Linked DNA regions of Homo sapiens. The protein of the gene in region 2 purifies or fractionates together with the protein of the main gene of each other region. This does not show direct contact. Each region holds a gene or a part of one and is shown on either strand. Other genes may lie near its edges.

What was found.
Region 1: the proteins of CEMP1 (region 2) and PLXNC1 purify together in Homo sapiens (affinity purification with mass spectrometry; one large-scale study listed by BioGRID and IntAct). This does not show direct contact.
Region 3: the proteins of CEMP1 (region 2) and PABPN1L purify together in Homo sapiens (affinity purification with mass spectrometry; one large-scale study listed by BioGRID and IntAct). This does not show direct contact.

The regions. Positions count from the first base shown.
Region 1 is NC_000012.12:94,155,024-94,158,668, forward strand, and holds part of PLXNC1 (plexin-C1 precursor), read left to right. Parts: intron 1-3,645.
Region 2 is NC_000016.10:2,529,535-2,532,821, reverse strand, and holds CEMP1 (cementoblastoma-derived protein 1), read left to right. Parts: upstream 1-1,413; 5' UTR 1,414-1,748; coding exon 1,749-2,492; coding exon of another isoform or gene 2,493-2,565; 3' UTR 2,566-2,787; downstream 2,788-3,287. Other genes in the region: AMDHD2 (N-acetylglucosamine-6-phosphate deacetylase), read right to left, coding at 2,063-2,565. UniProt on the Homo sapiens protein: May play a role in development of the periodontium which surrounds and supports the teeth by promoting the differentiation of multi-potent cells from the periodontal ligament into cementoblasts to form the cementum.
Region 3 is NC_000016.10:88,863,718-88,868,059, reverse strand, and holds the start of PABPN1L (embryonic polyadenylate-binding protein 2), read left to right. Parts: upstream 1-1,399; 5' UTR 1,400-1,453; coding exon 1,454-1,708; intron 1,709-2,118; coding exon 2,119-2,254; intron 2,255-2,429; coding exon 2,430-2,497; intron 2,498-2,931; coding exon 2,932-3,038; intron 3,039-3,119; coding exon 3,120-3,207; intron 3,208-3,680; coding exon 3,681-3,823; intron 3,824-4,264; coding exon 4,265-4,304; coding exon of another isoform or gene 4,305-4,342. UniProt on the Homo sapiens protein: Binds the poly(A) tail of mRNA.

The DNA.
Region 1 (3,645 bases), on a different chromosome or scaffold from region 2:
TTTCTTAATGCCTGATGTGTCAGGGCCCCTTCCTTCCTTAGTTTTAGGTTACATGGTGTCCTTTACTCCTTCACCTCTTCCCAGGTACTTCCATTCATTGGAATACCAGGCTTCTGGTGTTGCCAATCTGAGAGTTACTTTTGACCATGGAAACCTAGCATGGTTGGAACTTCTATGGTGTAATTTTTGATTGCCTTTCAACTATGAGAGGAAAGGGCTTTATGCTGTAGGCAGTGGTCCTTAAAGTGTGGACTGTGGCCCAGCAGCATGAATATCACCTGGGAACTTGCTAGAAATGCACATTCTTGGACCCTACACCAGACTTACTAAATCAGAAGCTCTGGAGGTTGGGGTGGGACTGGCAATCTGTATTTTAGCAAGCTCTCAACGTGATTTGAAGTCATGCTTAGGTTTAAGAACCACTATTGTAAGATAAAACAATTTTCCTTGTGTTCCAACTGAGGCACCTAGGATAGGAACTTGTCGCATTTTTTTTCCCCTTGCATTTTACTTAGGGCCATAAAAAGTAACCAACACATTTTACCACCTGATATTCCTTATTCCCTCCTCACTGATCAAAGGCAGTACCTAGAAAGCCCTTTAAAGACTTGCCATTTTTGGGCTTAGAGTCTGAGTCTCAAAAACCTGTAAGCCATAGTTTAATTAGCTCCTTCACTCTTGCATATAACAGTTTATTTGTATTTCACTCCCAGATGTGGGGGGATGTCTAGAGTCGTCTATTGTGCTGTACGCCAGAACCAATTCCGCACACCAGACATTCTCTCCAAGGGTCCATTCTTTACAACATCAGTCCTGTTACCAATTTCTATCCTAGTCATGTACAGTTGGTTGCATGGAATAAAGATCTACTTGAGTAAGGTCAGATAAAGGGATGAGGGATATTGTGGACAGAAACACATGGAATTACATGGTAATCTAGGAATAAAAGCAATGCTGTGTTATGGTTATGTGCACAGTCACTGGAACCAGGTCAATTGGGACCAAAGCTACCAGTTACCAGTTGTGGGACTGTAGACAAATTATTCAACCTTTCTGTGCCTCAGTTTCTTATCTATAAATAGTGATCCTCTTGGTTTCATAGGATTATTGTCTGGATTCACGAGTTAATAAGTATAGAATGAATACTACTAACTACTTAACTCATAGTAAATGTTATGTCTGTGTTTACTATCATCACCATCATTACTACTAATAGTGTTAGGACGGGCTCCTTGATATGCAGTTGGAAGGTGGTTCCACATTCAAGGCAGCTTAAAGGAGCTCAGTCAGCATCAGCAAATGATGGATGCTCCTTCCTTAGTCTCCCTGTTAACATGACTTAGCCTGGCTGCTTTGCACCATCCTCCTACCAAATAACCTCCTCTGCTTCCTCAAACATCTACTCCCTCCCACCTGAGTATGCCTCAGGCCTGCCTTGATCCCCACTGTCTATCTTTTTTTTTTTTTTTCTTGAAACAGGGTCTCATTCTGTTGCCCAGGCTAGAGTGCAGTGGCACAATCTCGGCTCACTGCAACTACCTCCTCCTGGATTCAAGCGATTCTCCTGCCTCAGCCTCCTGAGTAGCTGGGACCACAGGCGGGTGCTATCACGCCCAGCTAATTGGAATAAAATCATTTCTTAAACAATATGGTTCCTGGAGGAGAGACACTGGAAACTTTCTTTCTTTTTTTTTTTTTTTTTTAAACAGAGTCTCACCCTGTCACCTAGACTGGAGTGCAGTGGCATGATCATAGCTTATTGCGGCCTCAAACTCTTGGGTTCAAGTGATCCTCCCACCTCAGCTTCCCAAGTAGCTGGGACTACAGGCACACACCACCATGCCAGGCTGATTTTTTTTATTTTTATTTTTGGTAAAGATGAGGTCTTGCTATGTTGCCCATGCTGGTCTCAATCTCCTGAGCTAAAGCAGTCCTTCCGAAGTGCTAAGATTATAGGCATAAGCCAGCACACTTGCCTCCCACTGTACATCTTAACAGCCTGTCACCTTCGGCTTTGGCTACTAACTGGCAATGACTTTCTGTATTATTTAGTCCAAGTTGCCAGGAGAGAGATAGAGTTGAGTCCAGTTCATCTTTCCCACCAGATGATGAGCCCGAGTTCAGTGTAGGGATTTGTAACCCTTGGGGCAGGTGCTGGCCCCTGGTCCGACTAGAAGAGGATCAAACATGCAATTGTCCCCAGCAGGTGCTGCAGGTGGATTCCCTTAGAACAGGATGGCGGAAGAGCCACACCAAGACCAACATCTTGATTACAGTAGCATACAGTAGTGTCAAATCTGCCTCCCTTAAAGTTTTTTGATGACCACTCCCTTCCCCAAACATGCATTGGCACACAGATGATGAAGACTGGGAAACCCCAAAGTCGACTTGGGAACAGTGTGTGGCCAGCATGGGTCTAACCTGTTCATCAAAGTGGGGCCATGGAATGGTAGGTTTTCTTATTATGTTTTTTATGAAATGTGCTTATCATTTTTCTTAGTTTTAATTTTCTATCTTGATGAAATGCTAATTTTTACATGATCACAAAAACAAATAGAACTGTGACATTCATTTTTCAGTTTCAGTAGCTGATTTTCATGTTGGTTGGATTGTCTGTTCAATAGCTACACATAGTGCTTTCCTTAGAGAAGTTACTAGGGGGATGTGGCCCTATTTCCATCCCACCACCCTGGTCAATGCTGTTATGCAGGGGTCAGCAAACTCTTTCTGTAAAGGGCCAGATCATCAATATTTTCGGCTTTGCAGGCTGCATACAGTCTCTATCACAACTGCTCAATTCTGCTGCTGTAGTGTGAACACAGCCATGGACAATACATAAATGAGCAGGTAGGGCTGTGTTCCATTAAAATGTTATGGACACCGAAATGTGAATTCCCTGTAATTTTCACTTGTCATGAGTTATTCTTTTTTTGATTCTTTTCAACCATTTTAAAATGCAAAAGCTATTCTTAGCTCATGGGCCGTTTGAAAAACAGGCAACAAGCCAGATTTGGCCCACAGGTGGTGGTTTGTTGACTCCTGCTATTATAGAAAGAATGAGAGTAAAACAAACCTTTCCCATACAGTCTGATGCTCATGGCAAGAGAGACGTGACCAAAAGCTGCCGTGGAAGTCCCAAAAAGAGGCACTACTCTCAGCCTGGGAGGATCTGGGAGGCTTCAGAGAGGTAATGCTTGAGCTGCATCTTGAAGCTGAGTGGAGAAGGCAGAGAAGGGAGTTCTAGAGAGAAGGCACAGCTTGTGCACAAGCAGGAAGTTGAGTAAGCCTGGGAGCCACAAGCAGCTCACCAGGCTGCGGAATGTCCAGAAACGAGTGTGCAGGTCCAGATGGTGAAGGGCTTAATGAGACGGGCAAAGGTGGTTGGATTTTATCCTGATGGTTGGTCCTCTAGACTTTCCAAACCTTGCCTTTAAAATAAATTATCAATCGGAAGCTCCCTATGAGAAAAAGGTTAGAAAATTATCATTAGGCAGGGAGCAGATGGCGCATGCCCATAATCCCAGCACCTTGGGTGGCCAAGACGGGTGGATCACTTGAGCCCAGGAGTTTTAAGACTAGCCTGGGCAACGTAGCAAGACCCCATCTCTACAAAAATAAAAATAAAAATCTTAGCCAGGTGTAGTG
Region 2 (3,287 bases):
TTCCTCCACGCTTCTGGTGCCAATCTCCCCTGCTGCGCCCACCCTGGGTCCCTAGCCTGGGCTCCAAACCAACTCCGAGCTAGGGAAGCTCCGAGCCAGGGTGCTTCTAGAGTGTCCGGCCCACCCCTCCGCTTCATTTCCCAAGACAGTGAGGGCGGGGCTAGAGGCCAGGTGCGGAGGTGCGGGACAGGAGCCAAGCTGGGTCGTAGTGGGATCCACCTGTGCGTGATACGTAACAGAAGGGAGAGGCGAGGCGCGGGGAGGTCCGCAGGGATGTGGGAGACGCGACGGGGAGGACTGGGACGAAACAAACTAGGTCCGCAAGGGTATAAGGGGAGCAGCTCGGAGGGTTGGGGCGAGGCGGGGTCTACAGGGGTGTGGGGGGCTTGGCAGGGAGCGCTGGGGCGACGCGGAGCTCCGCAGCGTTGGCGGGGAGCGTTGTGGGGAGACGGGGTCTGCAGGAATGTGAGGGCGCGGTGGGGAGCGTAGCGGGGTATGCAAGGTTGTGAGGGTTGTGGATGGGAGGGCTGGGGCGAGGCGGGGTCCGCAGAGATGTGGGGGGCGCAGAGATGGGGGGGGTCCGCGGGCCCGCCGGGGACCGCGCAGCCTCGGGCTCTGTGCCCGGGGCCGCGCGGGTTAACTAGAGAAGGTGACGCGCGCCCCTGTTGCTCAGCCGCGGCGCGTGCCTTCCCTGCGGCGATCCTAATTGGCCCGACAGAAGCCCGCCCCCAGAAGCCCCTCCCACAGTAGGCAAGGCCCCGCGTGCCGCAACGCTCCCAGAGTTGCGCGTCAGCCTGGACTCAGCGCCTGCGCTACGAGGCTGGGCGGGGCGCGGCCGGATCGGTCGAGAGCGTCCTGGCTGATGACGGTCTCCCGTGCCCACGCCCCAAACGCAGTCTCTGGCCTGGATGTGCTCGGAGCCCACGAGGTGCAGAGGCTCGGACGGCGAAAGGGACCTGGCTGAGATCTGGGTCTTAAACCGCGGGCTCGGCCCAGCATCCCGGCAGCGTGCGCCCACAAGTGACACCCGGCCGGGCGCGGTCTGCGGGATCGCAGGCGCCGGGTCTCATCTCCAGTTCACACACGGGACGAAACGGGCCACCCCTACCAGCTCTGAGAGCATGCACCTCCAACTCCATCCCTCCCCACATGCCCGACCCCCCAACCCGTAACTCAGGCAGACACCTGGGCGTCCCCCTTCAGCGAATGCCCACACCGCGGGCAGGCCTGCCCCTCACCCCGCAGTCAGGGCGCCCTGCATCCTTCTTTGTAAAACCCATAGCTGTAGAGGGAGCGGAATGGTGGGGCAGGGCTGGGAGCCCAGCGGGAGTGAGTGGTGGGGAATGATGGTGGCCAAGGTCACACAAAGCAGTGAATTCACTTCATGTCACAGAACTGCTCAGGTTACGATAGTTACTTTTGTTATGTATTTTACCACAATTTTTAAAAAGCAAACCAAAACCAACCAAGAGTGCTTCCCCCACACCTCAAAATCATCCTGCAGCAGCTCCCTGGCCCAGCTCTCTCTCACCCTGACCCTGGGCCCCTCTCCCACCACCCAGGGCTAGCCCTGTGGACCAACCATCTCTGCCAGCCCCTCCCCGACCCTCCAGCCAGGGAGGTGGGGCGCTGGCCGGTGAATGGGGCAGGCCAGGCCCAAAGGCTGGCCCAGGGCTCACCAGCTCTGGACTGGGCGTCCCGTCTGAGGTGGGGATGACCAACATGCCAGCTCTGGGTTTTAGCTGAGGATGGGCACATCAAGCACTGACAGCCAGCAAGCTGGGCACAGGCGATGCTCAACCTCTAACACATCGGCTGAGAACCTCACCTGCCTCTCCCTGCCTGGGAGCCCTGGCAAGACAGCTCCTCTCCCAGGCCCAGCACAGGCAGGCGCTGGACAGCCACTTCCTAAGGGGTGCGCGGCCGTCAAGGCAGAGGTGGGTATCCCTGCACCTCACACCTCTCAGGAGGTCAGGATCCACATCCGTCGCCTGCTTTCCTGGGCTGCCCCTGGGGCTTGTGGGCTGAGATCAACCCCTTGTGCCCTGCCCCAGGCCCTCCCTCAGGCGAGGCCCTGCCCAGGCAGGTGGTTCTTCCCTGGCTGTTCCCTTCCAACAGGTGGGGCCCAGACCATCCTATCTCTTTGGACCTGGAGACATTTCCTTAACTGGGCTTTGCAGCAGAGGGAAGAGAACAGTGGCAGAGCCAGGCGCGTACCTCCTGTGCCCAGGACAGCACCTGTAAGCAAGGGGGAAGGGAGCCACCCACCCCAGAACTCAAATGGAGAGAAAGTCAAGACAATCACCCCTGACGTGGGGCTGCACCAATCCCTGACGTCTGACCCCACTGTGGCTGTCCTCAGAGCCAAGAGGGCTCCAGAAGCCCACCCGCCTCGAAGCTGTTCAGGGAGCCTCACGGCCCGTGTTTGCCACATGGGTGTGTGCCAGGGCCAAGGGGACACAGAAGATGGCAGGATGACACTAATGGGGTGAGCAGGGCACACTGGTGCCTCCCATACTGCCCTCCAGCACCAGGCAGGGTCACCACAGCCGGCAAGCACTGGGCCTGGGGATGTGTGAAGAGATAGGGTTATTGAGAAGAGAAAACAGAACGCTGGTCATCCGTGGCACTCAGGGCTAGGCAGTCCAGGGAGCAGAAAACAGGGGTCCCGGGCCCAGTCTCCCTCCTGGAGGTCAGAGCGGAGCCCCTGGCACTGTGCCCTGGCCCAGAACCAGGCTGTGGGCTCCACGCTGCACACCCCAACTCAGGAGCAGAAAGCAAACCCCTGACTGTCCACACTCCCTGTGACTGGTCCCCTTCCTGCCGGCTCTTCACCCCCAGCCCATGGTGGCTTCACCCCATGGCACCAGCCACTGACTGCCTGCCCCTCCCTCCCATAGTGACACTTTCCTGGGGTCTGCAGGTCTCCGGTCCACTTCATGCAGACAGGCCCTGTCCCCCACTGGGGCCCAAGGCCCAGGCTAAACTACAGCCCAGCCATCCCACCCCAGGCCGTGAATGCCTTCTCCAGGAGGGCAACCAAGGATGGTGCCACATGTGAGCACAAGCAAAACCCGGAGCCAAGGCGAGTCCTGCTGGGTGCACGTTTATCCCAGCCACCGCCTCCAGGGCGGCCGCACAGGCCCTGGGCATCAATCCAGCAGGGCTCCCGACTCACTCCCTGGAGACCAGCTCCCCAACCACCCGGCCCTGATGGCATCCCGCTGCGGCCAGGTGTCCTCTCAGCCGAGGTCCTTGTCACTGCCTAGCTGCGTCCGCCTGCCACA
Region 3 (4,342 bases), about 86 Mb from region 2:
TGCATGGTGCAGCAGTGCAGCTCCAGCCTAGGCCACGCCCTGTCTCTCTCTCCTCCCCCAGTCCCAAATTCCCAGGAATCCCAGCCCCACTGGCTAAACACCGGGGTGCAGTCACAGAGAGGATGGCCTCGGCCTGGGGGTAGGAGCTGTGCAGGGGGCCCCGTCTCCCACCACCAATGGCAGGGGTAAGAGCCATGCATGACCCCCTGGCCCCGAGTCCTTCACAGAGTGGGTGGGAGACGGCAGCACTGGAGATGAAGGCCAGAGCAGACTCCAGCAGCCGCGGTGGCAGGTGCAGAGGGAGGCGCAAGGGCGGACACGGGTCACCTCCTGCTGCAACCCTGCATGGGTGAAGCCAGGTGCAGACACCACCGGATGCCCACTGAATTCCGCCACAGTAACTCACGCCGTCACTCCCCACGGAGACCCCGCCCCACAATAACTCACGCCGTCACTCCCCACGGAGCCCCCGCCCCACAGCAGAATAATTCTGGCCTCATGGAAGTGGCTCCCACCTAAAAGATGACCCAGACCAGGTGCGGTGCTCACGCCTGTAATCCCAGCACTTCGGGAGGCCGAGTCGGGCGGATCACCTGAGGTCAGGAGTTCGAGACCAGCCTGGGCAACATGGTGAAACCCTGTCTCTACTAAAAAGACAAAAAAAATTAGCTGGGCATGGTGGCAGGTGCCTGTAATCCCAGCTACTCAGGAGGCTGAGGCAGGAGAATCACCCGAACCTGGGAGGCAAAGGTTGCCGTGAGCCGAGATCGCGCCACCGCACTCCAGACTTGGCAACAAAGCAAGACTCCTGCCTAAAAAAAAAAGAAAAAAAAAAAAAAGGCCCAGAATAAGGGTTAGGGAGGCAAGGGTCCCTGGGGACTCCATGGGGGTCAGGATGCAGAGACAGCTGTTGCTGCCCCTCCTCTGGGCCCAGGACCCCGCCCCAACCTGCCTCGGCCCTCTCATCCCATGCACCTGCTCTCGGTCTCTGCTCAGGCCCTGCCTCTCCTGGTCGGAAGCCACCTCTCCAGCCTGCTTGGTCCCTGGTACTAGAAGAAACCACTCCCGTGTTCCCACTTAGATCGAGTGTTCATGCAGTGTGGCGTTCGTGCCGTGTGGATGCTGCTGAGGTGTGAACCCTGTCACAGACCAAGGCTCCAGTGAGCCACAGCGTGGCCAGGCGGAAGCAGAAGAGACCGGTGACCCCCACTCAACTCAGCCTCTCCTTCCTCCAGGGAGAGTGTCCTGGAGGTACCTGTCCGAGTGACAGGGAAGGGGCGGGGCCGGGAGCCAAGGCTGGAAGCTCAGCCCCACTCAGCCTTTGCAAATGCTCTAGTGGGAGCAGCTGGCCTCAGGGGAGGGCTTAAAACTCCAGGAGAGCCTGGGCAGGTGCGGACGCGAGGGGAGTGGAGGGGAGGCCTCGCCTGGCCCACCTTCCTCCTGCCCCTCTACCATGTGGCCCTTCCCGAGCCGCTCTCTCTTCCCACCCCCGACTCAGGCCTGGCTCCAGACGGTCTCCTCAGACCCTGAGGCCCAGGGCTGGGGGGCCTGGAACGAGACCAAGGAGATTCTGGGGCCAGAGGGTGGGGAAGGGAAGGAGGAGAAAGAGGAGGAAGAGGATGCAGAGGAAGACCAGGATGGGGATGCAGGCTTTCTGCTGTCTCTGCTGGAGCAAGAGAACCTGGCTGAGTGCCCATTGCCTGACCAGGTAACAGCTGTGTGGAGGCCCTGGGGATCTCAGGGGACCTGGGGCACAGGGGCTGGTGGAGACACGGGGTCTGGGTGACGGATGGCTGCAGCTGACTTAGGAGGGGAGAGGGCCATTGCCCACCTGCCTGGACGAAGGTGGCAAGGAGACCCCCCGCCCCCAGCCACACAGACTGCAGGGTCAAGGTGGCCTCTCTCGCCTGGGGAAGGGCCCTTGAGGTGCGGTTTCGGGGGCTTCTCTGCAGGGGCGAGTTCATCCCCAGCCAGCTGCCCCAGGAAGGAGTGTCCCTGTCCAGAGAAGGGCTGCCCCTTGGGGCTGTGACCCTCTGCTGGAGCTGGCAGGCCACACACCCACCTTCCTTGAGCAGAGCCTGCAGGCTGCCTGCCCGGCTCAGGGCCGTGTGTCGGCAGGAGCTGGAGGCCATCAAGATGAAGGTGTGTGCCATGGAGCAGGCCGAGGGGACGCCACGGCCTCCAGGAGTGCAGCAACAGGCCGAGGAAGAGGAGGGCACCGCGGCCGGGCAGCTGCTGAGCCCTGAGACCGTGGGTAGGAACCAAGGGCACAGGCCGCCCCCCACTGAGCAAGGGTCCCACAGTTTCCATTAAGGTTGGGCCTGGCAGGCTCCAAGGTGTCACCTCCCCTATAAGCCTGGGCGACCTTCCCCGTGAGAGGAGTGAGGAAGGAACCAAGGGCCTGCGGGCCTGAGCTGTGTTCTCCGCAGGCTGCCCCCTCTCTGGGACCCCCGAGGAGAAGGTGGAGGCTGACCACAGATCCGTCTACGTGGGCAACGTGAGTGGTGGGCGGGGTGAAGGGGCAGGCAGCGAATGGGGCCCCATCTCTACCAGAGGGTCTGGCGCCCGGCCATGGGCCAGGCAGCCTTGCTGGGAAGGGGGTCTGACCCTGGGGGCAGCCCCGTCACCTTGAGGAAACACTGGCCTGGGCACATATTCCAGTTTTTCAACATGAGCTGGAATTCGGGGTTGCACATGAAATCTCCACTTTTGAGAAGCTTTTTAAAAGGCTCCAGCTCTCCAGAAGGAAGCGCTCCATACGAGATATCCTTTCCTCTCTTCCCTCCAACCCCAGCGGGGGTGTGGGGTGGAGGCCTGGGGCCATCCCCGCCACGGGGCCCAGCCTTGGGGTTTCTTTCCTCACCTCTAACAAGAAGGCCCCGAGTCAGGGCCAGGCGTCTCCCTCACATGCTGGTCTGGGCCTGGGTGCAGGTGGACTACGGGGGCTCCGCCGAGGAGCTGGAGGCCCACTTCAGCCGCTGTGGGGAGGTCCACCGAGTCACGATCCTGTGTGACAAGTTCTCTGGACACCCCAAGGGGTCAGTGTGGGGCCTGGTGGGGGCACTGGCCATGCGGACAGGGCCCAGCCTCACCCCTCCCCTCCCTGCCCCTCCCCTCAGTTATGCCTACATAGAGTTTGCCACCAAGGGCTCCGTGCAGGCCGCCGTGGAGCTGGACCAGAGCCTCTTCCGGGGCCGGGTCATCAAGGTGCGCCGGTGCTCCCCAGGTCCAGGAACATGAGCGCAGAGGGGCTGGCCCACTGGCCCTGGGACACACAGCAGCCCCAGCTGGCTCCTCTCTGCACAGCGTGTCTCAGGCACGGTGCTTGGCTGGGCCTGGACAGGATGTGGCGGGACCCTCGGACCTGAAGCTGGGTTTGGTCTGCCAGTGGCATGGTGGGGAAGTGTCCCCTCTCGGGCGGGAGCCCCCTCTGCAGGGGTGCTGGCCGTGACCCCCCCCTCTGCAGGGGTGCTGGCCGTGACCCCCCCCTCTGCAGGGGTGCTGGCCGTGACGGGGTGTCATATGACAGCTATGGTAGGCAAAGGCAGGGAACCCTGTAGGCCCGAATGGTATCCTGAGCCGGGCAGGACCCCATGCTCCGGGGTGGTGGGGGCTGCGGGGGCTGTGAGCTGGGTCTCGGCTGCTCCTTGAGGAGGACTCAAAACAGGCCTTTGCTCCAGGTGCTGCCGAAAAGAACCAACTTCCCTGGGATCAGCTCCACAGACCGCGGGGGCCTTCGAGGACACCCAGGCTCCAGGGGGGCACCCTTCCCCCACAGCGGCCTCCAGGGCAGGCCCCGGCTCAGACCACAAGGGCAGAACCGGTGAGTGGGTGCCTGTGGGGGCAGCCTGGGGGCGAGGGCCATGGTGGAGGGCATCAGGGGCAGGAGGGGGTCCCTGAGCTCGTTCCTCATGGGGCTGCAGGAATGTACCTGGCGGGGCCTGGGTGAGGGCTGTGGCTGCTGCATCAGCTGGTGGGGGGGGCGCTTTTTGTAGCCTCTCTGCTGGGAGAGGTGACCCCTTCTTGTTCCCACAAAGGCCCCAGGGTGGGCTACAGCTGCCCCAAGGGGCTCTCCTGGCACTGCCTTTCCTTTTCGTGGGACCCTCCCAAGAGAGCAGCTGGGAGTCACCAGAAAGGCCCCTGGGGCATTGCCTGAGCAGCCAGGTGACCTCCCTGCATCCTTATCCTGTTGTCCCCCGGGGCCCTGGGCCACCACCCCTTCTCCTCTGGAAGGCCACTCAGTGTGTGTTCTCTCTCCGTGCAGGGCCCGTGGAAAATTCTCACCATGGTTTTCACCGTATTAAAGGGAAGACCCGATTTTGAGAGAGGGGCTGGGGCCTGG